7 linked regions of the Homo sapiens genome follow. The protein of the gene in region 1 purifies or fractionates together with the protein of each later gene. This does not show direct contact. Each region holds a gene or a part of one and is shown on either strand. Other genes may lie near its edges.

What was found.
Region 2: the proteins of DUSP22 (region 1) and MTCH2 purify together in Homo sapiens (affinity purification with mass spectrometry, with the first as the bait; one large-scale study listed by BioGRID). This does not show direct contact.
Region 3: the proteins of DUSP22 (region 1) and PTPRG purify together in Homo sapiens (affinity purification with mass spectrometry; 2 studies listed by BioGRID and IntAct, with this or other methods). This does not show direct contact.
Region 4: the proteins of DUSP22 (region 1) and CCNYL1 purify together in Homo sapiens (affinity purification with mass spectrometry; 2 studies listed by BioGRID and IntAct, with this or other methods). This does not show direct contact.
Region 5: the proteins of DUSP22 (region 1) and INPP5A purify together in Homo sapiens (affinity purification with mass spectrometry; 2 studies listed by BioGRID and IntAct, with this or other methods). This does not show direct contact.
Region 6: the proteins of DUSP22 (region 1) and HPCAL1 purify together in Homo sapiens (affinity purification with mass spectrometry; 2 studies listed by BioGRID and IntAct, with this or other methods). This does not show direct contact.
Region 7: the proteins of DUSP22 (region 1) and RAP1A purify together in Homo sapiens (affinity purification with mass spectrometry; 2 studies listed by BioGRID and IntAct, with this or other methods). This does not show direct contact.

The regions. Positions count from the first base shown.
Region 1 is NC_000006.12:344,487-347,986, forward strand, and holds part of DUSP22 (dual specificity protein phosphatase 22), read left to right. Parts: intron 1-1,367; coding exon 1,368-1,442; intron 1,443-3,500. UniProt on the Homo sapiens protein: Dual specificity phosphatase; can dephosphorylate both phosphotyrosine and phosphoserine or phosphothreonine residues. Activates the JNK signaling pathway.
Region 2 is NC_000011.10:47,636,060-47,639,559, forward strand, and holds part of MTCH2 (mitochondrial carrier homolog 2), read right to left. Parts: intron 2,993-3,500; coding exon 2,908-2,992; intron 2,747-2,907; coding exon 2,640-2,746; intron 1-2,639. UniProt on the Homo sapiens protein: Protein insertase that mediates insertion of transmembrane proteins into the mitochondrial outer membrane. Catalyzes insertion of proteins with alpha-helical transmembrane regions, such as signal-anchored, tail-anchored and multi-pass membrane proteins.
Region 3 is NC_000003.12:62,271,571-62,275,070, reverse strand, and holds part of PTPRG (receptor-type tyrosine-protein phosphatase gamma isoform 1 precursor), read right to left. Parts: intron 2,126-3,500; coding exon 1,990-2,125; intron 1,374-1,989; coding exon 1,227-1,373; intron 1-1,226.
Region 4 is NC_000002.12:207,735,640-207,739,139, reverse strand, and holds part of CCNYL1 (cyclin-Y-like protein 1), read right to left. Parts: intron 1,730-3,500; coding exon 1,694-1,729; intron 1-1,693. UniProt on the Homo sapiens protein: Key regulator of Wnt signaling implicated in various biological processes including male fertility, embryonic neurogenesis and cortex development. Activates the cyclin-dependent kinase CDK16, and promotes sperm maturation.
Region 5 is NC_000010.11:132,645,787-132,649,286, reverse strand, and holds part of INPP5A (inositol polyphosphate-5-phosphatase A), read right to left. Parts: intron 3,420-3,500; coding exon 3,319-3,419; intron 1-3,318. UniProt on the Homo sapiens protein: Phosphatase that specifically hydrolyzes the 5-phosphate of inositol 1,4,5-trisphosphate to inositol 1,4-bisphosphate, and inositol 1,3,4,5-tetrasphosphate to inositol 1,3,4-trisphosphate. Plays a crucial role in the survival of cerebellar Purkinje cells.
Region 6 is NC_000002.12:10,305,904-10,309,403, reverse strand, and holds part of HPCAL1 (hippocalcin-like protein 1), read right to left. Parts: intron 1-3,500. UniProt on the Homo sapiens protein: May be involved in the calcium-dependent regulation of rhodopsin phosphorylation.
Region 7 is NC_000001.11:111,699,789-111,703,288, forward strand, and holds part of RAP1A (ras-related protein Rap-1A precursor), read left to right. Parts: intron 1-3,500. UniProt on the Homo sapiens protein: Counteracts the mitogenic function of Ras, at least partly because it can interact with Ras GAPs and RAF in a competitive manner. Together with ITGB1BP1, regulates KRIT1 localization to microtubules and membranes.

The sequences.
Region 1 (3,500 bases):
GACATTTTGCCCCGGCTGGTCTCAAATTCCTGAGCTCAAGTGGTCTGCCCACCTCAGCCTCTTCAAGTGCTAGGATGATAGGTGTGTGCCACCGCGTTCAGTCCATTTAGGACTTCAGAGTTTGCAGAGCATATTGGCATGTATTACCTCATCTGCCCTGTGAGATACCAGCCCCACTTTATAAATGAGAAGATAAATGGCTTGTCCTGGGCCACACGGTCCAGTAAATGGCAAAGAGGGATTGGAGCCAGAATTTCCATTTCCCCACAGCTCTCCACTGAGCTGCAGACAGGACTGCCAAAGTCCCGGGAGACCAGTTTGAGAGAATGCTTTTAGATTTTCCAGATTGCCAGGAGTAAATCAGCTTTTAGGACTTGGAAAGCCCACACGACGTGGTCACCTTCCTCACCTGCGTCACGGTGGCCTGCACCATCCACAGCTGGTGTGAGGGTTCCTGCTGTGCTGCTGGGGCATTGAGGGGCTCCGATTGAACATGGGGGGCGCCGTCCAGAACTTCCCTCAACCCCAGTCTGTGGTAACTATGTGTTTCAGGGATTTCTTACAGAGAAATTCCAAAACTTCCAGACAACCCACAGCCTTCCCTAGACCTCAGCATTGTAAATAATGGATTCTGAGGCTGAGACAGCTCCAGCCACAGACAGTATGACCAGGTTTTGATGGTATGGGACTAGGAGAGCTTTCAGTAAACCACAGGAAGAATAAATTCTGGTTTCTTTCTTTTTTTTTTTTTTTTCCTCTGTTGCCCAGGCTGGAGTGCAGTCGTGTGATCTTGGCTCACTGTAATCTCTGCCTCCTGGGTTCAAGAAATTCTCCTACCTCAGCCTCCCTGGTAGCTGGGATTACAGGTGTGTGCCACCACACCCAGCTAATTTTTGTATTTTTAGTAGAGACAGGGTTTCACCATGTTGGCCAGGCTGGTCTCGAGCTCCTGACCTCAAGTGATCCGCCTGCCTCAGCCTCCCAAATTGCTGGGATTACAGGCGTGAGCCACCGCACCCAGCCATGTTCTGGTTTCCATTACCTGGTGGATTATTTGATTATAGCAAATAATAATGTAGTATATGTTTCAAGATAGCTACAAGAGAAGCTTTTGAATGTTATCACTACAAAGTGATAAATGTTTAAAGTGATTAAGCATTTATCAGGTAATTATCCTGATTTGATTATTATACAATGTATACATGCATTGAAGTGTCACACTGTAGCCCATAAATATGTAGAATTATGTGTCAATTATACAAAAAAATCAATTAACATTTTAAGAAAGAAGCCTCAGGTAGAATTTTCTTTTCATCATATATTGAGTAAAGTAGAGAGATGTCATTTCTCTTTTTTTCTTTTCCCAGGACAAGACATTTCAAAGAAAGTATTAAATTCATTCACGAGTGCCGGCTCCGCGGTGAGAGCTGCCTTGTACACTGGTACGTGTGTCTCTTGCTTAATAGCGCCTTAGCGTATTCTGGTCGGCTTGGCTTCCCATCAAGTGTTTTTCCGTGTGTGAATAATGGTTTCACCTCCTAATAGTTTTCTGTAAACCCTGACTCTCAAACGCGTGCTCCATTTGTCCAGCGCTGTGTGTTAGTCGCCCTTTCCTTCTGTTGAAGGAGAACCCTAACTCGTTTTGCTTTTGTTTTTTTCCCATTTCCACTGCTAGGATTTCTGTAGGGACCGTGAAGGTTACTGGACAACAGAAACTTCCCTTTGCTGGCTTGCCTCCAGCATTTCATCAGAACAGCCTCTTACAGATGACCCAGATTCTGTAGGCTCATCCTTGAAACCTCAGTGGCTTTTTGAAGACACTGTTGTTTTTTCTTCAGGAGACTTGATTGCAAATGTGGATTTTCAGTATCGCGCTACTGTGACACCAGAATGACCCAGTTTAGTGACGGCTGTCTGTTTGCATCCTGCTATATTTTGTGTAGACACACACACACACACACACACACACACAGTGAAAAGAAAGCTACTGTATCACGCTTAACCCGAGGATGATGCATCTGAAGCGCTTGGCAGTGTGCCTGGCACATAGAGAGTTCTTAGTGAAAGTGGGATGGCATTTTTATGACCACTCGTAATCATGCTAATAACATGGCTAATTTGTTCAGGGAACCAGTAGCCAAAATTCAGGAGCCAAGGCTCTGTTGTCTAAGTGCTAGGCCGGACATGTCCCCTCTCTGTCTTGAATGAAGTGTGTTATTAATTAACTGGAAGCCTAACAGTCTTTTGACATTCCCCGAAACAGTTCCTCTTGCACTGTAAGCTCTTTAGGACTGTGAAGTGATAACTCCTGGGGAATATTGCTGCTGAGGTTGGTGGCAGCCCTGCCAGGACAGAGGGGACCCAGGGACCCAGTGCATGACATCCAGAGAAGCCACCTATGAAAACTATAATGTGTTCTGAGGGCCGATAGGGACGACAGGGAGGACGCTAGATAGTTGAGTTGTTTTTAGAATGGTGTCTGCAGTTTCATACAGTTCTTGAAATCACATGATTTTTCATCTCACTTTTTTAAAGAGTAGAAAGTGTAATAAATACAAATGGTAGGATTTTAACGTTCATTTCTGTTTGGCTTTAACATACCTTGGGGGTTCAATTGGAGCCAATTAAAGCGGAATTCTGGAACTCCCACTCCTGGGCTTCTCCTGGCTCCTAGTGAAGGTGAATCTCCAGGGTTGCAGCCCCAGAGGATCTGTCTTTTAAGATCTCTCCTGGTAGTTCTAATCTAAAGCCCTAGTGAAGAGCCACTACTTGAGAGTGGGGTTTTAAAATTATTGTTTATATTTGAATATGTGTAGGCCTGATATTCTAGGAATTAATACTTCATACAGTTCTGTGCACCTAAAGATAGGCTTTTCTAAAAGTGAGACATTTGCTGAACTTCCCCATCTTAACCTGTTGCTAGAACTCTCTAAGTCTGATGAAGCACAGCCATTCTGTGACCGCCTTCATTTGCATGTACATGTAAAACGGGTCTCACTCAGCCTGCTCCAGGTAACTGACCCTAACCGTTACTGCCTGCAAGGGTGCCTTGCTCCCACCCTGCGGACACAGTGTGCCTGCTCTGTACTCTGCATATTTATGTCAGGAAGAGTACAAAAGTAAGATTGGGTAAGGGCTTCTCTACATCATGGGCTTTAAAAATTATAGATCTAGCCCTCATATAGCTGAGAAAACTCGACTTTTAAGGAACATGAAGCATTCTAAACAAATGTAGGTTATAAATGGGTTTGTCGCGTAGGCCCTGGAAGCCTCGTTTCCTTGGAGTACCTCAGTTATGTCGTTTGTCCGGGGAAATGGGAAAGACCTGAGGAGGGGCTGAGGAGCAAGGGAGCATCTGGAGCCACAGCCCATAGAAAACCAATAAAAGAAGCTCAAACAGCAGAAGAAAGCATGCGATTCTAGTGCCAGGAAGCATAGGGAGCTGGTACGTTGAGTGCTGAGTGGCTTCCTGGTGGCGAGCTTGCTGTCCACATATAATC
Region 2 (3,500 bases), on another chromosome or scaffold:
AGAGGTTGCAGTGAGCCAAGATCACGCCACTGCACTGCAGCCCAGGTGACAGAGCAAGAGTCCGTCTCAAGAAAAAAAAAAAGAAAAGGGAAGGCTGGGTGCGGTAGCTCACGCCTATAATCTCAGCACTTTGGGAGGCCAAGGCAGGTGGATCACCTGAGGTTAGGAATTTGAGACCAGCCTGGCCTACGTGGTGAAACTCCATCTCTACTAAAAGTACAAAAATTAGCTGGGCTTGGTGGCGGGCGCCTGTAATCCCAGCTACTTGGGAAGCTGAGACAGGAGAATTGCTTGAACCCGGGGGGTAAAGACTGCAGTGAGCTGAGATCACATCACTGCACTCCAGCCTGGGCAACAGAGCAAGACTCCATCTCAGAAAAAAAGAAAAGGGGCCGGGCATGGTGCCTCACGCCTGTAATCCCAGCACTTTGCGTGGCTGAGGCAGGCGGATCACCTGACGTCAGGAGTTTGAGAACAGCCTGGCTGACATGGCGAAACCCCCTCTCTACTAAAAATACAAAAATTAGCTGGGCGTGGTGGTAGGTGCCTGTAATCCCAGCTACGTGGGAAGCTGGGGCAGGAGAATTGCTTGAACCCGGTAGGTGGAAGCTGCAGTGAGCCGAGACCATGCCATTGCACTCCAGCCTGGGCAACAAGAGTGAAACTCTGTCTCAAAAAAAAACAACAAAAAAACCCAAAAAACGAAAAGGGAACATGCGCAGTGACTCACGCCTGTAATCCCAACACTTTGGAAGGCCGAAGAGGGAGGACTGCTTGAGCCCAGGAATTCAAGACCAGACTGGGCAACATAGTGAGACTTTGTCTCTAAAAAAATAATAATAAATTTAAAGAAATAATTACAAAATAAGAACAACAACAAAAAAGAAAATTCAAGAACTCTGTTTTTTTTTTTTTTTAGATGGAGTTTCACTCTTGTCACCCAGCTGGAGTGCAATGGTGCAATCTCGGCTCACTGCTGGAGTGCAATGGTTCAATCTCAGCTCACTACAACCTCTACCTCCCAGATTCAAGCGATTCTCCTGCCTCAGCCTCCTGAGTAGCTGGGATTACATGCGCCCACCACCACGCCTGGCTAACATCTGTATTTTTAGTAGAGACAGTGTTTCACCATGTTGGCCAGGCTGGTCTCAAACTGCTGACCTCGGCTGATCCACCCGCCTCAGCCTCCCAAAGTGCTGGGATTACAGGCATGAGCCACTGCGCCTGGCCAAGAACTTTCAGTTTTAACAGAAAATAAGTCAGTAAAAACATAGCCCAGGGTTCCCACTTTTCTCATGGAAAACGCATGACCAATACCAAATTAGGGCAAGACTCTTTTCTTCCCTGCATAAAAGGACAGAGAATTGATATTAAGACTGAAGAGCTGAAATCGCCTCACTTTCTCCTTTGTATCTGATGGTTTCTAAAACAAGCAAGAGGTTTTTTTTTTCTCTTCTAGAGAAGAGATCATGAATACTGCCAGAGCCCAGAGAAAAATTCTTGCAAGAGGAATTTTTTGTGGCGTATTTTGGAAATAGAATGTGAGCTAGGTGAAAATAAAATTATCAATTGAGAGCTCCTTCTTGTGTAACCACCAGTTTTATTGTTTTCTTATTTTTTAATGTCAGTTTTATTATTTTCTAGCCATATCAGATTTCAAAAATAGACAACATTTTCTCTTGTAAAAAGAATTGTGTTTAAAAAAATCACGGGCAAGAGAACAAATGTGAAGATAAAGCAAAGTAATGTATTTTGGCCAAATTCCAGGTCCTTGGCTAGAATTAATTCTAATAGCTTCAGGTCTCTAAATTTTCACTTGTTTCTATACTTTGTTATTTACTCCATCGATATAATTATCTAACCTGTCTTCTACATTTCCTGAATTTCATTTTAATTCTTGTTCAGTTTACAAAATTATTTCTTGTAAAGGTTAATAATTTTCTCAGCCCTGCATAGATCCTTCTTCTTGACTGTACAAGCAGCTTTGGATGCTAAGTGTAGTACCAACCCTGTAATATTTCACTGGACTACATTTGGAACATATTCAGGGTACCTGGTTACCTCAAGTTTGTCTTACTTTACAGTTACATAAAGTAACTTAGTCTCAAGCAGCACTTTCTCTTTTTCTCTAAGTCTATACACAAACCTCTTTGGCTAGATGACAACTGCCTTTCCATATGTAAATTTCATGGAAGTAACAGCAACAATTTCACTGAGTCCCGCCGGGCGCGGTGGCTCATGCTTGTAATCCCAGCACTTTGGGAGGCCGAGGCGGGCGGATCACGAGGTCAGGATATTGAGAACACGGTGAAACCCTGTCTCTACTAAAAATACAAAAAATTAGCCGGGCGCAGTGGCGGGAGCCTGTAGTCCTAGCTACTCAGGCTGAGGCAGGAGAATGACGTGAACCCGGCAGGCGGAGTTTGCAGTGAGCCCAGATCGCGCCACTACACTCCAGCCTGGGCGACAGAGTGAGACTCCATCTCAAAAAAAAAAAAAAAAAAAAAGAAAGTGTTTTTCAAGAGGAAGAAAGGACAGGGTTATAAATGTATCTTTTAAATTGCTCTTGATATTTAGAACAAACTATGCATAACAGGTAAGCAACATCTATGGGAAGATTGATTTAATTTTCCTCTTACCTGTAAAACTTTACCATGGACCACAGTTCCAAGGACTCCCGAACACAGTCTTGGAGTTAAGCCTGTGAACAACCCGCGCCTCCCATCGATACTGGCAATGTGCTGAGCTAAGAACACAAGTCAGAGATGTTGTCAAGTTCTGGTCAAGAGAAATGGATATACTACAATTTCAAAGAAACAAGCTTTCTATATATTTTCTTTCAATAACAACTCCTGCCTATCACAGTCCTCAACGTCATGCAAACCCAAATAAATCAAAGGCACTTACCATAACTAAAGAGACCAGGAAGCTGACACACTTGCCGCCCAAAAATATTTCGTCCTATTGTTGGAGGAAGAGGCTCATATCCCACCTTTAAAAACAATGGAATATATCAATATTAAAGCAATATTTCCAGAAATGTCTTGCTTGCAAGGTCTTGAATAAAGAACACAATTTGGGTTATTTTTAAACACAAGTAAAAATGCAGCATAGGTTTTCCAAGGCAATGATGAAGCATCATTCTTGTAGGTTTTTCTTCTGTTGGTAATACTGAGTTCAATAAACTCCAAGTTTCATTTTGGTTCAAATTCTATGACGTAAACCATGTAGCTGAAATAGGCTAATATCAAACTGAAAGAAGGGAACTTTTGCGTTAGGAAAGCTACAGTTTACTAAGGGGGCTCAAAAATACCTTCTAAATAAAATCTAAGGCACATTTTGTATTTGAACAAAACTAGAAGACATCCATTACGCCAGCATCAGCTGCATATTTGGCAACCCAGACAAAACACTCAAAAGGCAAATGCAGATATAGCTGGATAATTCACTTAGGAAAGAATTACAAGCTAACTTCATGTTAGAAGAACAGGCTGTCGGTC
Region 3 (3,500 bases), on another chromosome or scaffold:
GATGCTTTAGTAAAACTCATGGTCCCTGGATATAATTTTCATTTTCAAGTTTGATTCTTGTTTTTTTCTTCATCTTGAGCTCTAAAATGGTTAGTGCCTGTAAAAGAACCAACTACCTGGTCGCATTTCTTAAATGAAGTTTTAAAGTATGTATAAAAAAAAATTGAAGAAACGAAAAAGGCAGAATTTAAGAAATGTTGGTACTTAATATTTTGTAAGAACTCATGTTAAACATTTAAAATGATACACTGTGTCCTCATTATTAATTATCTCATGGTTTTATAGTAGAATGTTAATGGGGAGCTAAAAATTTTTAATTTTATGACTGAACTCAGTGAAATTAAACTATTTTTCATTTCATATCACTTGGTATAATTTGCTTGGCAGTCTCATTTCTTCAGCTGAGATTCAAATGAAAGTTTCAGTCTATGGAAAGTTTTACCATGAAAACTAAAACTGTAGATTCATCTCATTCTTTGAATCTTGATACAAAGGGAGAAACTATTTACATACAGAACAATGTGCAAAATAGAATTTAAAAGACAAAGATAAATAGGAAAGCACTTGGTAACTGGAGAGACAGGCGATGTTTGAAAGTTAGAAGCAATTTTGATTTATTATCAGATGACTGAGCCCTAATTATTTTAATAGTCCTTATAATCTCTCTTTTTCACCTTCACTTCAGTCAATTCCATATAAACCTTAACCGCTTTTAAGCTTCTTCATGTCCCTATCAAAGAAAAAGAACAACCATTTAGGAAAAGTTAACTTTTCTCTAGTATTGTTTAGTAATTCTTTTTAAATTCCTAAATTATCTTCTGAAATAGTTTTTGAAATAGGCATATTTTTAGGACAATATGTCTACAAGTCATCATTCTTAATAATTAAGGTAAGATAGATTAGTTCAGAAAAAATAGGACATTTTTTGGACTAAACGAGTTACTTTAAAGTACTATGTCATTATGGCCAGGGGCTGATGTTTATATTCAGATAAAGTCATAAATTGCTCAGAAGAAAATACAACACTGTATATCTACTTGAATACCAACAATTCATACATAGGTCAAAACCGTATTTTCTTTTTCATCACATTTAAGGAGTACAAGGAGTACAAATAGTAATCCATTTCGGTGTATACATTAATGCAAAGAAGACATAACCCCCAAACTCAAGGCATTTAAAACATTTTCTTGCTTTATGCCAAAGAAACTTTTTCAAAGCACTACCTTGAATTGCTTTTCCAGTCGTGTCTTTCCTCCTACTCCTGGTATAAGGATGCTGTTAACATAGCTGTGCAGCTGATTTGAAGATACTTCAGTCTCCTTTCCAAGAATGGCTTCCAACAAGGCATCATGGATGAAAATGTACTGCTCCTAAGAGGTACAATACATGGTAGTCACTGAGGGAGTGTTAAGGGTTAGCCACTCATTCATGAAGTGTACCTTAGTTTAATTCTGCTGCTAACAGGGACCTCCCAGTGATTTCCTTCAAGCACTTACAGCTAGGTGATTTGCTCCAATACTCACTTTATCAGTCTTAACTTATTTTACGGTAGAGACTGTGTTAAGTTTAGCTCTGTATTCTATACTGTGCCTGGATCACGGTATTCTATACTGTGCTTATTGCTTCAACTCAATAAGCAAACAAAAAATCGTGTTCAATGAAGGGTTTTAGAACCATCCTCTCCTATGTATTTCTCAGGCCAGACAACATGTTTAACTCCCCCTACCATCTAACACAGCTCTTGAAACAACTGTATCTCTTTCGTAAGTACTTGTGTAGTTATTTAGGAATCCAAATGTTAAGATCCATACAGAAATGGAAAACTGTGATCCGTAGAATAGGATCATTGTCAGAATATCTTCTAATACAAACCTGTAAATTACTGCAAGCCCTAAAAGAATGAATCTGTCTCTTCATTATCATTTAACAAATTTCAGTTACAGCATTTGCCAGAATGTCGTGAGGACGCTGGCAGCTACTCCTTACCTCAGTCTGGACGAGGTAGTTACGCTGTGTCCTGATATGCTTCAGGAATCCCAGGACGTTAACTGTGCTTTTGTCTTTTATCTGTTGCAGCATGCTGTCTATTACAATATAGGTGCCTGTTCTGCCCACACCAGCACTGTAAGAAATGAAGACACTCAACTGGCACTTTTGTTTTATCATACTGTTAACTTTGGATTCGAAAAATTCCAATCTAAACCCCATTTATTTTATTATTTTTCTGAGATGAGATGGAGTTTCACTCTGTTGCCCAGGCTGGAGTGCAGTGGCGCAATCTCGGTTCACTGCAACCTCCGCCTCCCAGTTCAAGCAATTCTCGAGCCTCAGCCTACCGAGTAGCTGGGATTACAGATGTGTACCACTACACCCGACTAATTTTTTATCTTTAGTAGAGGTTTCACCGTGTTGGCCAGACTGGTATCGAACTCCTGACCTCAGGTGATCTGCCCACTTTGGCCTCCCAAACTGCTGGAATTACATGTGTGAGCCACCACTCCCAGCCTAAACCCCACTTAGATAACCTTAGATGACGTACGTTATTCACTTAGCATTGCAACATAAATCACAGAACAAGCGACATGTATTTGAGTACCAAAGTTTAAAACAAACAAAAAAGAGGCAAGAATGCATTTTCAAATGAAACAGAATAAAAGCATTTTTAAACAACCAACTAAAGTCATTTACTGTGGCTGACAAAAAACAAGCTTTATACAAGGATTTCCCAGTGCTTTTGAAAAGGTATTTTATATGGAACATTTAAACTAAAAATTTAAAAATGAAATATTTTCATATATACTATAAATATTGTTATTTAGAAGAACCTTTCAGAAAAGCCATTTACAAAAACACAATCTCTATTCTAGTGTGGAAAGTTCTTGTGTTTAACGTCATATTTTTATTTATTAGGATCAGGCTACAATTTTCCTATAAACAATGGGGATTTTGTAATTTTTTCTTTTTTTTTTTGAGTCATGATCTTGCTCTATCATCACCCAGGCTGGAGTGCAGTTATGTGAACACAGCCCACTGCAGCCTTGACCTACTGGGTTCAAGGGATCCTTCTGTCTCAGCCTCCCATGTAGCTGGGACCACAGGCATGTGCCACCATGCTGGCTAATTTTTTTATTTTTAATTTTTGTAGAAATGGGGTGTCACTTTGTTGCCCAGGCTGGTCTCAAACTCCTGGGCTCAAGTGATCCACCCACCTCAGCCTCCCAAAGTGCTGGGATTACAGGAGTTGGCCTCCATGCCTGGCTGATATTATTAATAAGAAGATTTTATAAAAACTAGGGATTGATCTAGTTTTTTAAAAATCACAGAAGCAGCAGATGATTTCTTAATGTTACAGGAATAGAGCCTCTTTAAGACTATCATAGGTCTTATCCATCCCAGTTTCCAGTGGAAGATTCAGCTTCTAAGTGAAAGCAGTAGCAATCATTGTGGTCCAAGGTCACTGAGGCCTAAGTCCCCTGCCCCATCTATTTCACATGTTG
Region 4 (3,500 bases), on another chromosome or scaffold:
GGAGAAACTTGTACCTTATTATGTGAGTTTAACAGCTTCTCAATACTTAAAGATTTTTTAATACAATTGGTGGTGATACTAACAAAAGTGAGCTTTGCCACTGTCAAGAAATGTGAACCAGGCTGGGTATGGTGGCTCACGCCTGTAATCCTAGCACTTTGGGAGGCTGAGGTGTGCGGATTGCTTGAGCTCAGGAATTCAAGACCAGCCTGGGCAACATGGTGAAACACTGTCTCTACTAAAAATACAAAAAATTAGCTGGTATGGTGGTATGTATTTGTAATCTCAGCTACTTGGGAGGTTGAGACAGGAGAATCGCTTGAACCCGGGAGGCGGAGGTTGCAGTGAGCTGAGACTGCACCACTGCACTCCAGCCTGGGTGATGGAATGAGACTCTGTCTCAAAAAAAAGAAAAAAAAAAGAAAGAAGAGATGTGAACCAATATTTTCCATATAACCAATGCATAATATTAGAAAACCAAGTAAGGGGAAATGATACATATATTGTACAAGACAGATGGGTGAGTACTAATAAAAAATTCATTGATAACACAAAATTCCACTGTAACCATTTTAAGAAACTAGCACTTGTGGAGTGTTGGGTAGTATTAAAGAATACTGGCCGGGTATGGTGGCTCATGCCTGTAATCCCAGCACTTTGGGAGGCTGAGGCGGGTGGATCACCTGAGGTCGGGAGTTCAAGACCAGCCTGGTCAACATGGCAAAACTCCATCTCTACTAAAAATACAAAAATTAGCCAGGCGTGGTGGCATGCGCCTGTAACCCCACCTACTCGGGAGCCCGAGGCAGGAGAATCGCTTGAACTTGGGAAGTGGAGGTTGCAGTGAGCCGAGATCGTGCCACTGCACTCCAGCCTGGGCAACAGACAAGACTCCGTCTCAAAAAAAACCAAATAAAAATAAACTAAAAAATAAAGAATACCCACAACCATCTGAAAGCTTTAAAAATATACCTTTTACCAACTATATATTTGCGTGAGGCTAGGTCATCTTCTTATCACTTCTTCAAAACAAATTACAGCTCACTACCAGGGTGCACTATTAGCCACGTAATACACCTACACATGTACTCACTGTATCTAAAATAAAAGTTGAAATTAAAAAAAAAAACTAATTGCAAAGACAGAGATGAGAATCCAGCTGTTTTCTGTTAAGCTGGACACTAGAGAGTTGTATATATATAAATACATGACACATTTTACTCAACTTCGTTGTTGTAGAAGAGAGTTATTTTTCATGAAAAAATATTATTTATGTTAACAATATGATTCTCAGTCAGGGGTTATATTTTTGTTGTCACAACCTGGGACAGCTGTTAAATATCCTACAATACACAGGACAGTCCCCACAACAAAGACTTATGTAGCTCAAAATATCAACAGTGCCAACGTTGAGAAACTGAAACTAAATATAGGGTTTTTTTTTTTAAATTCTCAACTTCAATTTCTAATGCAATAAATATCAATATAACCAACATAAACAAATACTCTTTGGGATCCTCAGTAATTTAATAATTGAAACCATCTTGGGGACCAGAAAAACCACAAATGATTCAGTTCAATACTGTAATAGCAATCTATAGCTTATGATGTCTATAGTTATGACCTAATACTGAACTTGATATCATGCAAAGTAATTAGCTGGAATAACAAGACAGGTTTTAAAGGAGCTCACCTGTTCTTTATGTGGTAATATATTGCTAAGGTCACACTGTGAAGGGAAAAAAAAATTATTTTTAACAACTGATTTAAACATTTGTTAGGCCTGAAGACATTTTTTAAATGAGGGAAGGGAGGAACCCTCCTAGCGGCCCTGAAATCCTCTAGTTCAGAACAGTACCATATGGGTACTTTCCCCTTGTTTTAGTTCCTTTCAGCAAAAATACACGAACCAAAATGCTAAGTAAGGCCGGGCGCAGTGGCTCACGCCTGTAATCCCAGCACTTTGGGAGGCCGAGGCAGGTGGATCACGAGGTCAGGAGATCGAGACCATCCTGGCTAACACGGTGAAACCCCGTCTCTACTAAAAATACAAAAAATTAGCCGGGCGTGGTAGCAGGCGCCTGTATTCCCAGCTACTCAGGAGGCTGAGGCAAGAGAATGGCGTGAACCCGGGAGGCAGAGCTTGCAGTGAGCCGAGATCGTGCCACTGCACTCCAGCCTGGGCGACAGAGCGAGACTCCGTCTCAAAAAAAAAAAAAAACCCAGTAATATGCTGTTAAAATACATGTTTCTGTGGACTATTATAATATATAAATAATTACATATATCCCCATTTGCTCTTCTGCCCATAGAACCTTTCATTTTATACAAGTTCTACCTATTTGTATACATGCTTAAATTTAAACTATTTGGTTTTTTGGTTATTTTTATTTTTTGCTTTTTAAGCTGTTAGGCTCTGCATTTCAGTTGATTTAATTAACTATCACCTACCCACCCATCTTTCATTATTTCCCCTTAAAGTAAATAAAAGTGTTTTATACCAAATAAAATCATTTATGATCAATTTTGCATCATTAGTAGAAAATTTATTAGTAAATAAGTGCACACAAAACCAATGATAGGTGTAGCTATCCTGAAATAAGCAGTGCTAACAATGCAGCATAAAACTACAAAGTGTAATATTAATGGCAAGTATTTCCACATTGGTTTAAGTAAAATATTAGTGAACAGACACGACTTTTCAGATATATGTTACTGTATTCCTAAATTACCCACAGATGTTGTGTATCAGGAAACAAGGAGTTGTCTTAGGTAAGTTATATGCTTCCATTTGCCCTCAGTCTCTAAACTGAGGCTCAAAATAATTGAGGGAAGGCAAATCTGAATTTTAAGTCCATACAATGTTAGCACTTTTTTAAAAAGTCTGTAACATTAGCATCTAAGATGGATACTTCTATAGTGCTTCAAACATTTTCATGTCCAAATTGATTTTAACATTACAGAATTTGAAGTTATATGCTGAAAAGGACCACGGAACCTTACATGACATTTAATCCAACACCCAGTTTACAGATATGGGAACCAAGGCTTAAAACTGACTTGCCCAAGGTCCCACCAAATAGAAGCAGTTCATCCTCCTACATTCAATTAAGCAGTGGTTCTCAAACTTTCTGCACACTGCAATCACCTGAGGAGCTTTAAAAACTGCCTAACTTCCAACTTGAGACATTCTGATTTAATTGGCATCGGGTATGACTTGGGGCATGAGGAGTGTTTTTTGTTGTCTTTTTGTGTGTTTTGTTTTGTTTTTTTTTTGAGACAGAGTCTTGCTCTGTCGCCCAGGCTGGAGTAAAATGGCACAATCTCGGCTCACTGCAACCTCCGCTTCCCGGATTCAAGCTATTCTGTCTCAGCCTCCCAAGTAGCTGGGATTACAGGTGCACGCCACCACGCTTGGCTAATTTTTTTGTATTTTACTAGAAATGGGGTTTCACCGTGTTGCCCAGGCTGGTCTCAAACTCCTGAGCTCAGGCAATCTA
Region 5 (3,500 bases), on another chromosome or scaffold:
GACCAGACAGCGAAAGGAACGCACAGACGGAAGGAAAAGCGAGGACAGGGAAAGCACACGTGAGGCTTCTGGAAGGAGTGGACAAACACAATGTCAGAAATAAAACGAACTGACTGCATGGACCTAAGAGAAGATCAAAATCTGCAACAGAAAAGAGCCCAGCCACTTAAAAATACAGCAACAGAGGCGATCCAAACCGAAACACAGGGAAAATGAGCTGAAAACAATCAGAAGAGCTTTAGGGCCCTGTGGGGCAGAACCAGGCAATCTAACATCAGGTAACTGGAGCCTAAGAACAAAAGAGAAGGGAAGGAAAAGAAAAATAGTATTTAAAGAAATAATGGACAAGGACAAATTTTCCCCAAATTTGATTAAAACGATAAACCCACAGACTGCAAATGCTCAAACGGCCCCAAGCAAGATAAACATAAAGAACATCAAAGCAAAGTACAACATAATCAGGTTGCTGCAAACCAGCTATAAAGACAAAACCTAGCAGTGGAGGAAAGGGCACATTATATACAAGAAAATTAAGAGAGAACAATGGCGAGATTCTCGCCAGCAACAATGCAATACAGAAGACAATGGGGCGATATCATTAAAGTAGTGAGAGGAAAAAAAATTGACAAGCTAGAATTCTATTTACAACAAAAACAGCTTTCAAAAATGAGGACAAAGACCTTTTTCAGATAAACAAAAGCTGAGAAAATTCATGAGCAGCTGACTTGTGCTAAAATAAATGTTAAAGAACGTTCTTCAGGCAGAGAGAGAAGGGTGCCAGATAAAAAGCAGAATCCACACAAAAGGGCGGAGGGCACTGAAAGCCAGTGAACTGGTCCACACCAAGGGCGTTTCTCTCACGTCTTAATCTTTTAAAAAGAAAATTGTTTAAAGCAAAAATCATAACGCTGTACATTAGGCATAAAGCGCGGAGGAAGGAAACACACACGGCATCGCGGGGGCACAAGGCCGTGGGGGCCACACTCCACTGTGAAGCTCTCACACCAAACACGGCGGCATCGTTCCCGTCCGGCCTGCGGTGTCCCCGCCTGCTGTGAGGGCGGCGTCCTCCGTGCTCAGGGTGCACCCCCACTTTCTCTCCTCTGGAAGGTGCTTCCCAACAGGGGCTGCTTTCCTTCTCTTACCGACTTACTGAGTTCTTCATATATTTAAACACTCGTTTTTGTCAGTAAGGTGTGCTGCAGATATCTTTTCCCGAAGTGGCTGAATTTTGATTTTGTTTTGAGTGACTTCATTTTGAGTGACTTCATTTTGAGTGCCTTTTCATAAGCAAATGCTTAGTTCAAACATGGCCACATTTTTCAGCCTTCCATTCTGTAGGCTGCACTTCCTGCACATTTTAAAAGAAATCTCTCATCCCAAAACTATATTTTCTCCTATATTTTAGACTGAAATTTTTAATGTTGCCTTTTACATTTATATAATTAATACAACTGAAATTCATCTTATGTAGGGTGAGTGAGAAGTGGCTGCTTATGACACAAAGCAGGGATCCAATTTCATTTTTCCCAACAGGACACCAATGATGCCGTGCCCCAGCCCATGTCCCCACCCACCCTCCTCCAAGGCAGCCGCGAGGGTCTGGGTGGGGCCTCGACTCCGCTCTCCACTCTCTGGGCTGCGCACCTGCCTCGATCCGCTCTCCTCTCCGGGCCTGCGTCATGCCACCTGCCCCACTGCTTCTTCGGAATGAGCCTTGGGGTCGAGCTGGGTGAGAACCCACTTTGTTTTCCTTCAGGATTCTTTTAACTATTCTTGACCCTTTGCTCTTATATGGCAATTTTAGTATTAGTTTGTTGAGTGTTAGGAAAAATGCCGCTAAGATTTTGATTAAAACTGCCTTAAACTGGCCAGGCATGGTGGTTCATGCCTGTAATCCCAGCACTTTGGGAAGCCAAGGCAGGCAGATCACAAGGTCAGGAGATTGAGGCCATCCTGGCTAACATGGTGACACCCCATCTCTACTAAAAAAACACAAAAAAATTAGCTGGGTGTGGTGGTGGGCACCTGTAGTCCCAGCTACTCGGGAGGCTGAGGCAGAAGAATGGCATGAATCCAGGAGGCGGTGCTTGCAGTGAGCTCAGATCACGCCACTGCACTCCAGCCTGGGCAACAGAGCGAGACTCCGTCTCAAAACAAAAAAAAAAAAAGAAAAAAAAAATGCCTTAAATTACAGATTATTTTGGGAAGTTGTGGCAGTTTTTTTTAGCAGCTGAAACCACTTTGCTCTGCTCGAGGACCCTGCGCTGGGAGTTCAACACGGAGGGCTTATGTCACAGCAAGGATGCAGCGGCTGGGATCGCCTGAAGCCTCGCTCACACTCACACTGGCACCAGGCCGGGAGGGCTCGACGGCTCTGCCCACAGGTCCCGACTCCGGGTGGCTGCATCGACCCACAGAGCATGGCAGCAGCGTCAACCCACAGAGCGTGGCAGCAGCGTCGGCCCACAGTGTGTGGCAGCGGCGTCGGCCCACAGAGCGTGGCAGCGGCGTCGGCCCACAGAGTGTGGCAGCTTTGTGAAGCTCTGCGATGTTGGGGGCTGGTCCCAGAAGCCCTCATGCTGTGAAGAAGCCAGGGCTTGCCCAGGGTCTGGAGGTGGAGACGAGCCCCCAACATGGGAATGTGCCAAGGCCACACTGTAGGGGACACAGAGGGCGGGCTTCACGGCTGCGGCCTCGGGAAAATACAGCAGCCACTATTAGCAACAGCCTATAGGAGGCCCCATGTCTGAACACAAGCCTGCCTGCCCCTGCCTGCTCCTGTCCACTCCTGGATGCCCCAGGTCCGGGCGCCCCCTCTTCCCAGGCAGGACCCAGTTGGGCCGGCCCTGTCAGAAGCCTCAGGGCATGTACAGTGGGAATACACGTGGGGCACCTTCCTCCTAAACGATGGAGATTTCGCCCCCAAGGAGGATAGACGCTCCCTGCCGACCTCCTTGAGACAGACTGCGCAGTGGGATGTGAACCCCGGCCACCACAGGCCCAGGCCTCAGACACACACACACGGAGACGGCTCCACTGGTATCTGGGGCTCACGTCCCCTGGCCCGAGAGCACAGACCCTCGCCGTGTGGAGGCAGCAGGCTGTCACTCCGTGGCCTTCTGTCGCCGCCCCAAGGAGGCTCGTGGCCACACGTCTGGGCCACTCCTCTCTTTGGAAAACTGAGACTCAGCCAAGATGACCCCCAGGTGAGTCCCGAATGGTGAGGCTGGTGATCATAGTACCATGAAAAGACCCCCGCCGGCACCCCACACCCCTGGGAAGTGGACATGCACCAGCACCTGCCCCTAGACTTACTTGACGAACTTGTCCACGTGGGACATGGAGGCCTCGTAGTTCTTCCCTCCAAACTCCTGACAGTGCAAGGCCATGAAGTGCGGCTTGTGTGTGTGCACGACCTGGAGGGAGAGAAGCACACTGTCAGGGTCGTCGGAGCCGTCCACAGAGCCACACGTGGCACCACCCCCTCCACCGCCCCC
Region 6 (3,500 bases), on another chromosome or scaffold:
CTGCTGATGCCCTTGGGCTACTTATTTGCTCTGGGCCTCCTCAGTTTTTTCATTTAGAAAAATGGCTTGGGCTGAGGCACAGTAGTTCACACTTATAATTCCAGCACTTTGAGAGGCCAAGGCTGGAGGATTATTTGAGCCCGGGAGCTCAAGACCAGTCTGGGCAACATAGCAAGACCTCGTCTCCACAAAAAATTTAAAAATCAGCAGGCATGGTGGTGTGTACCTGTAGTCCTAGCTACTCAGGAGACTATGGCAGGGGGATTGCTTGGGCCCAGGAGTTCAAGGCTGCAGTGAGCTGGGATCACATCACTGCACTCCAGCCTGGGCAACAGAGCAAGACCCTATCTCAAAAAAAAAAAGTTTGTTAAGAAGCAGGGTCTCACAATATTGCCCAGGCTCAAATCCCTGATTTCAAGCAATCCTCCCACCTCAGCACCCCCTAGTAGCTGGAACTACAGACAAGAGCCACTGTGCCTGGCTTAGAAAATAGATTTGTTTTGTTTTGTTTTGTTTGTTTTTGTTTTTGATTTGCCATTTGCCTCACAAGTTCTTGATGAAACAAGTTAAGGTATGTATGTAGCAGGGCTCACATCACCTGACACATCAATACATGCGCTGTATTTTAAATCCCCACACTCTGCTAGATACTCAGGAGTTATACAAAAGAAATGTGAGGAACACAACTTCAGCTGGTCCAGCCAACACACCTTGGGTATTCTGTAGGTGCCAGTGCTGAGCCAGGTGCAGGCAGGAGAGGCAGGTAAGAGAGCTCGCCATCTAGCAGCGGGATGGCCAAGCACCCAGCTCACTTCGTCGGTGCTGGGGGATAAATTGATTCTAACTAGAAGACTCTAGGAAGGCCCAAATGAAACAGCTCTTGGGCCGAACCTATGAAAACACACTAAGAAACATAGAAAGAAAAGGCAAATCTAGAGACAGAAAGCAAATCTGTGGGGGACTGGCGGCTTGAGGACGGGGACAGGGAGTTTGTACAAAAGAGGGATCTTTCTGGGGTGATGGATATGTTCCAAAACTGGATTGTGGTAATGGCTATGAACTCTATTAATTTACTGAAAATCATTAAACTGTACACTTAGAATGGGCATGCTTTATGAGAGATAAATTCTATCTTGGTATTAATTAAAACAAAAATGAGTAGGAGTTTAGCAGATAAGGAAGTCTGGGTGAGACAGAAGAAAGGCATCGAACAATCCAGCCCCAACTCCAACCCCTCCCCTGCACCCCCAACTCTCCCAGGTATCAGCTTAGAGGGTGCTTCTCCAGGGAGCCCCCTATACTGGGGTAGGAGCTCCCCTCCATAGCACTTCACGCTCCCTGGTCTTATTTGATAGGTACCCCACATACAACCCCCAGCCCAAGACCTTAAACTCTGCACAGGTAGGGAGGATGCCTGGGCCCAACCTTCTCAGACTCCAGCTTGGTCCAAGGCACACAGTAGGTATCAGAAGCACTTACTGCGTTAAGAGAACAAACCAAGGTTTGGTGGGGTTGGGGAGGCAGAAGACAGTGGGATGATGAAATCTGCGTTTTAAACTGGGAAGTGCTGCCGGTGTGGCTGGAGTGAAGGAACTGGAAGCATTCTCTGGGCCAAGGGCAGATAAGGCTCCGCTGTGCCGGAAGAGTGGGTGTGAGCCCTCAGAGAGGGCTGACCCAATTAGATGGCAAAGTGAAGACAGACAAAGAGCTCCAAAACTCTCCAGAGATTTCAAGTGAAGACAGAGAAAGAGCTCCAAAACTCTCCAGAGATTTCTAGCTTTAACAAATGAGTAGATGAGACGTGTTGACCATAATAGGTAGGAGACACAGCTTCAGTGAGGGAGATGTGTCCTCGGCTCTGTTTTGATGTGGAACAGCTCGGAGCCCACACCTAGTGTTAGGTCTGCAGCTCAGGGGGACAGCTCAGGTGTATATCTATATCACCTGCCAATGCACAGATGTGGGCATAGGTGAGTTCAGCCAGTGCACCTGGGCAGGTAGAAGGAACTGTCCTCTAGACATGCACTTAATATCATGCCTACCTGAGAGGAGACCTCACTTGCCTAAGGGGACACAGAGCAAGGAAAGATTTAAGCTAGGGCAAGAGAGTACTGAGGCGAAATCTGGGAAGACTTCCAAGAGGAGAACCACGCACCACCCAAAAGCCTTCTTCCTTTTTTCAGGGTCACAGCAACCTTATCCATGCAGTACGTATTTAACAATCCTGAGTTTTCTTAGCCAAGGGTCAGAGACCCATCCCTTGCTGGAGAAGACCTCTTGTCTCATGCCACAGGTGGGGCTAAGACACCTCCACCCCCAGGCTCCTGGCTTCCTGCCAACTTGGGTAGTACCTCAAGCACCAAAAAGATCCAAATACCCAGACAACCCAGCTGCGGGATTAGAAGCATTCAGGGTGCACTTGCTTCTTAAGGTAAAGGCACACAGCCCCAAGAAGTCATCTTTCCTGCCCTGCTGCTGGCAGAGGAGGGTGGCAACAGGAAGAGAGTGGAGGTCTCTGGGAAGGATTTCTTTAGTTCGTCATGCCTCCGATGTGAAGCTTTGCCTCTGAAATTCAATTTTACTTGAAACAACATGGCCAAGGTAGGGCTCTTTAAAGGATTTACTGTGCTTTTCAGATGATTTAAAAATCTTGAGACTTGCGCCCTGCTCATCAGCATCTAAGAAATGTTCCACCTGTCAAACCGTATTGATTACCTGAAGTCATATTACAATCTGCACCACTAGATTCCAACCATTTTTTAGTCTTTGTAGAAAGTGATTTGAAGAAACCTTTTTTCCGTAGGGTAACTGGCACCAAAAGAGCCCCTAAGCCCATGCTGCTGTCTCCATATACAGCCACCCTCTGTCATTCCCAGATTAGAAACTCAATCTAAGGGGAAAAGCACAAGAGCTACCTGACATTCACAGATGTGCAGCTTTACATGAGGACATAAGAACGACACAGAAACCCCCTGCTACCATAGGAGAGCAGGGAGCCCCAAAGTAGAGTGTGATTAAAATCTACAAGTGTCTGCTCATCCTAACTCCAAACATGCCTCCCCCACCCCCCAGCACAGTGACATCAGGTGCTGACAAACTAGCAGAATACACATAATCCCCCATCAATCCTGGCCTGGCAACTCATCAGTTGAACGCATTATCCCACAATGAACAAGCACGGTTTAGGGCTTGCTGGAATGCAAAATTTTAATACAAACCTAACCCCAATCTAGATAAAAATTCAGCTGCCAAGTAGCTTAATCTTCGGTGCCAAATAAACTCCGGGGCCCCCGTTAGTACCCTGGATTATCACTGGTTCATGAGTGAGTGTGGTACTCTACCACTTATGAGTAGCAAAAAGGGTCTTAGAATAAGTGTCACAGGGAGACAACTGCTCTGACGCACACTCAGCAGGGCATGCACTGTACCCGCGCTGCAGACCTTGGAACTGTGCTTGCAGAGCCCTGAAGGTAGGGGGTGTGAGCACCAGCGCTTCAACA
Region 7 (3,500 bases), on another chromosome or scaffold:
CTTCAACTTCGTTACAACCTGTAGTCCATTTATCCTAACATCTTTTTATTATCCCTTATATCTTCAACCCCCTCTGCATATAGCTTCAGGTCCACGGTCCATCATTTATAATTCTCTTGAATATATCCTCAACTCCCTTGACTTTTCAGCAGCCTTTGACTCAGTTTATCATTGCTTTCTAATGTAAAACCTTTATTCATTTGGCTTCCAAGAAACAATACTTGCCTGATTTCCTCTGTCTCATTGGTTACTCCTAAGTCTCCTTTCCTAATTCCTCTTTATCTCCCCTACCTCTTAATGTTGGAGGACCTCAGGGTTCAATACTTGCACTTCTCTTTCCTAACAACACTGCTTTGGAGATCTTGTAGTTGCTTGGTTTTAAATACAATCTGTATGCTGATAAATACTAACTTTGTAACCCTGTCTGTATTAGGCCGTTTGCATTATTGTAAAGAAATACCTGAGGCTGGATAATTTATGAAGAAAAGAGGTTTAATTGGCTCATGGTTCTGCAGGCTATACAAGCATAGCTCCAGCATCTGCTTCTGGTGAACACCTCAGGAAGCTTACAATCATAGTGAAAGGCAAAGAGGAGTAGGTGTTTTACATGGCAAGAGCAAAGAGTGAGCGGGAGATGCCACACACTTTTAAACAACCAGATCTCACGAGAACTCATAATTGTGAGGATAGCACCAAGCTATTCATGAGGGATCCACCTCCATGACCCAAATACCTCCCACAGGCCTCACCTCCAACACTGGGGATTACATTTCAGCATAAGGTTTGGAGGTGACAAACATCCAAACAATATCCCTATCTCTCATTTCTTTTCTGAACTTCGAGCTCTTATATCTAACTGCCTCTTCAATATCTCTTTTTGTATGTCTTATAAGCATCTCAAATATAACATGTCCAAACTGAACTCCTGATAACCTTTCCCTGACCTGGGTCTTTCCAGTCTTTCCCATCTCAGTAAATAGTACCTTTTTAGTTGGTTATGCCTGAAACCATGGAGTCGTCCTTGACTGTATTTTTTGTTATATTATGTGTACATCCAAACTCTCAGAAAACCCTACTGGCTTTACCTTAAAAACTTACCCAGAACTCAGCTACCACCACTAGAATCTAATGACACTATCTTGGTCTAAACAGTTGTCATCTCTCAGCTGGATTATTTCAATAACCTCAAAACTGATCTCCCTGCTTCTCTTCTTCACCCCCTTCAGATTGTTCTCCACACAGTAACCATCATAATTCCATTTAAATGTAAGTCAGATCATGTTTTCCTCAGCTTAAATTATGCATTAAACTCAGAGTAAAAGCCCAGGTCTTTATTACATTTCCCTGAAAGGTCCAAATGAGAATCCTCTCTCTTTGTCCCTTCTCTGGCCCCCACTGCTATACTCACCCACTAGGTAACAATGTTTCAATGAATCCAGCCTCCTTACAGCTTCTCATACACTTTAGACATGTTTCCCTTTGGGGCCTTTGCATTTGCTCTTTCCTGTGCTTGGGGTAGTCTTCCTCCACATAACCATAGAGCTTATTCCCTCACCTCCCTCACATGGTTGCTCAAATGTTACCCGTGAGGCCTTCCCTGAGCATAGTCTTTTAAAATATAACTTTATATTCCTACCCTCAAAATAAACTCCCAACCTTTACTTTTCTCTATAACATTTATTACCATCTTGCATACTTGATTTTTGTCTGTCTCCATGTATACTCCTCCAGGGCAGAAATTTTTGCCTCTCATGATCACTAACATATCCATAGGGCTACAACTATGTCAGTGGATATTTGTTGTGAATGGATGAAACTTGTAGAATGTCCTTAAGAAGGAGGTTGGCATTCTCAATAGGAGGGAACACCAACCACAGCAGTTCTGTAAGGACTTTTCTTAAACTGGATTTTCAGAACTCAGGTTGCCTGTATGTTTATTCTTTTGATTTAATAAGAAGCAGAGACCATGATCTCTAGAGAACATCATAGAAATAGTGTTGCTAGTATTTGTAGCACTTAACATTTGTAAGTAAACTCATTTATTATATAAACATTTGGACAGTGGCAGAATTTAATTGGTTACCATAGTGGTGCAATTCTGGAATATGCAAACTTTATCAATGAAAAATCCAGGAAACTTCCAGTTTTTACATCTTTCCCAGAAAATACACTGGCAGCAGTATAGGAAGCTCAGCCATGTTCCTGTGGCACACCTTAGACGAATTTGAAGCTGGGGAAATGGCTGAGTGGTAGCATAGCTAACTCCCTGGAATACAAGAAAGAGTACATCAGCCAGGGTAGAACAACCAGAACTATTTTAGATGTAGTAGACAAAATAGAGGTAGTGGTCATGGGGAACAAGGAAGCCAAGGCACAACAAGCTTAAGAAACTTTGTGGATTTATCTTTTACGTTTAATGCATCCAGAGGTAAAAAGATCCAAACTGTATAGTTATTTAATATAAAGACCCAAGACATACACATTTTTAATATTCTGCCATATGTGCTTTTTAAGTAATATATATATATAATACCAAAACTTTTCTAAAAGAAGATTTTGTCTTATATTAACCTCCATAGTTACAACATAAAGTAATGATTGTCACCAAATAAAAGGAAGTTTAAAATTAAGTAATTTTAATTTGGCATGACTAAAGCTCAGTAACTAAATGTTAACCATTAGTAAATTTAACTAAAGGGGATAGATAGTCATTGCACTATTCTCACATCTTTTCTAAAGGTTTGGAATGAGGGGGAAAATGAAAATACATGAACAAGCTCTTTTTTTTTTTTTTCCGAGACAGAGTTTCACTCTTGTTGCCCAGGCTTGAGTGCAGTGGTGCGATGTTGGCTCACTGCAACCTCCACCTCCCGGGTTCAAGTGATTCTTCTTCCACCAAGTAGCTGGGACTACAGGTGTGCACCACTACGCCCGGCTAATGTTGTATTTTTAGTAGAGGCAGGGTTTCACTGTGTTGGCCAGGCTAGTCTTGAACTCCTGACCTGGGGTGATACACCTGCCTTGGCCTTCCAAAGTGTTGGTATTACAGGTGTGAGTCATTGCCCCTGACCATTAACAAGCTCTTATAAAGAGTTTATTGACTGTCAAGATGATAAAAATATTGCTATGCCATGGGAATAGAAAAAGAAAGATGATAAAATCTGCCAGTAGAGATATTGATTCTGGATGATGAAGTCATAGTTTAGTATTGGGCTTATACCTCAGATTGTTAGCACTTGGGCAGTAGTTGTGTCATAAATTTGCAAATAAAATTATTTAGGATCAAAAGATCTGTTTCTAAAAAATTATATACAGCTCTAAATCACACAAAAGCAAATTAAAGTGGTTAAGAATTCCTTTTTAATTCTAGTTTACTGTCATTGTTTCTAGTCACCTCAGTTGCTAGAAACTTGTGTTATGTCTTGTTTTCTGTCAGGATAGCAAGTAATAAAAAATGTTACTCACTTGTAATTATGCTGTTTTAAATTGTTGCAGTATAC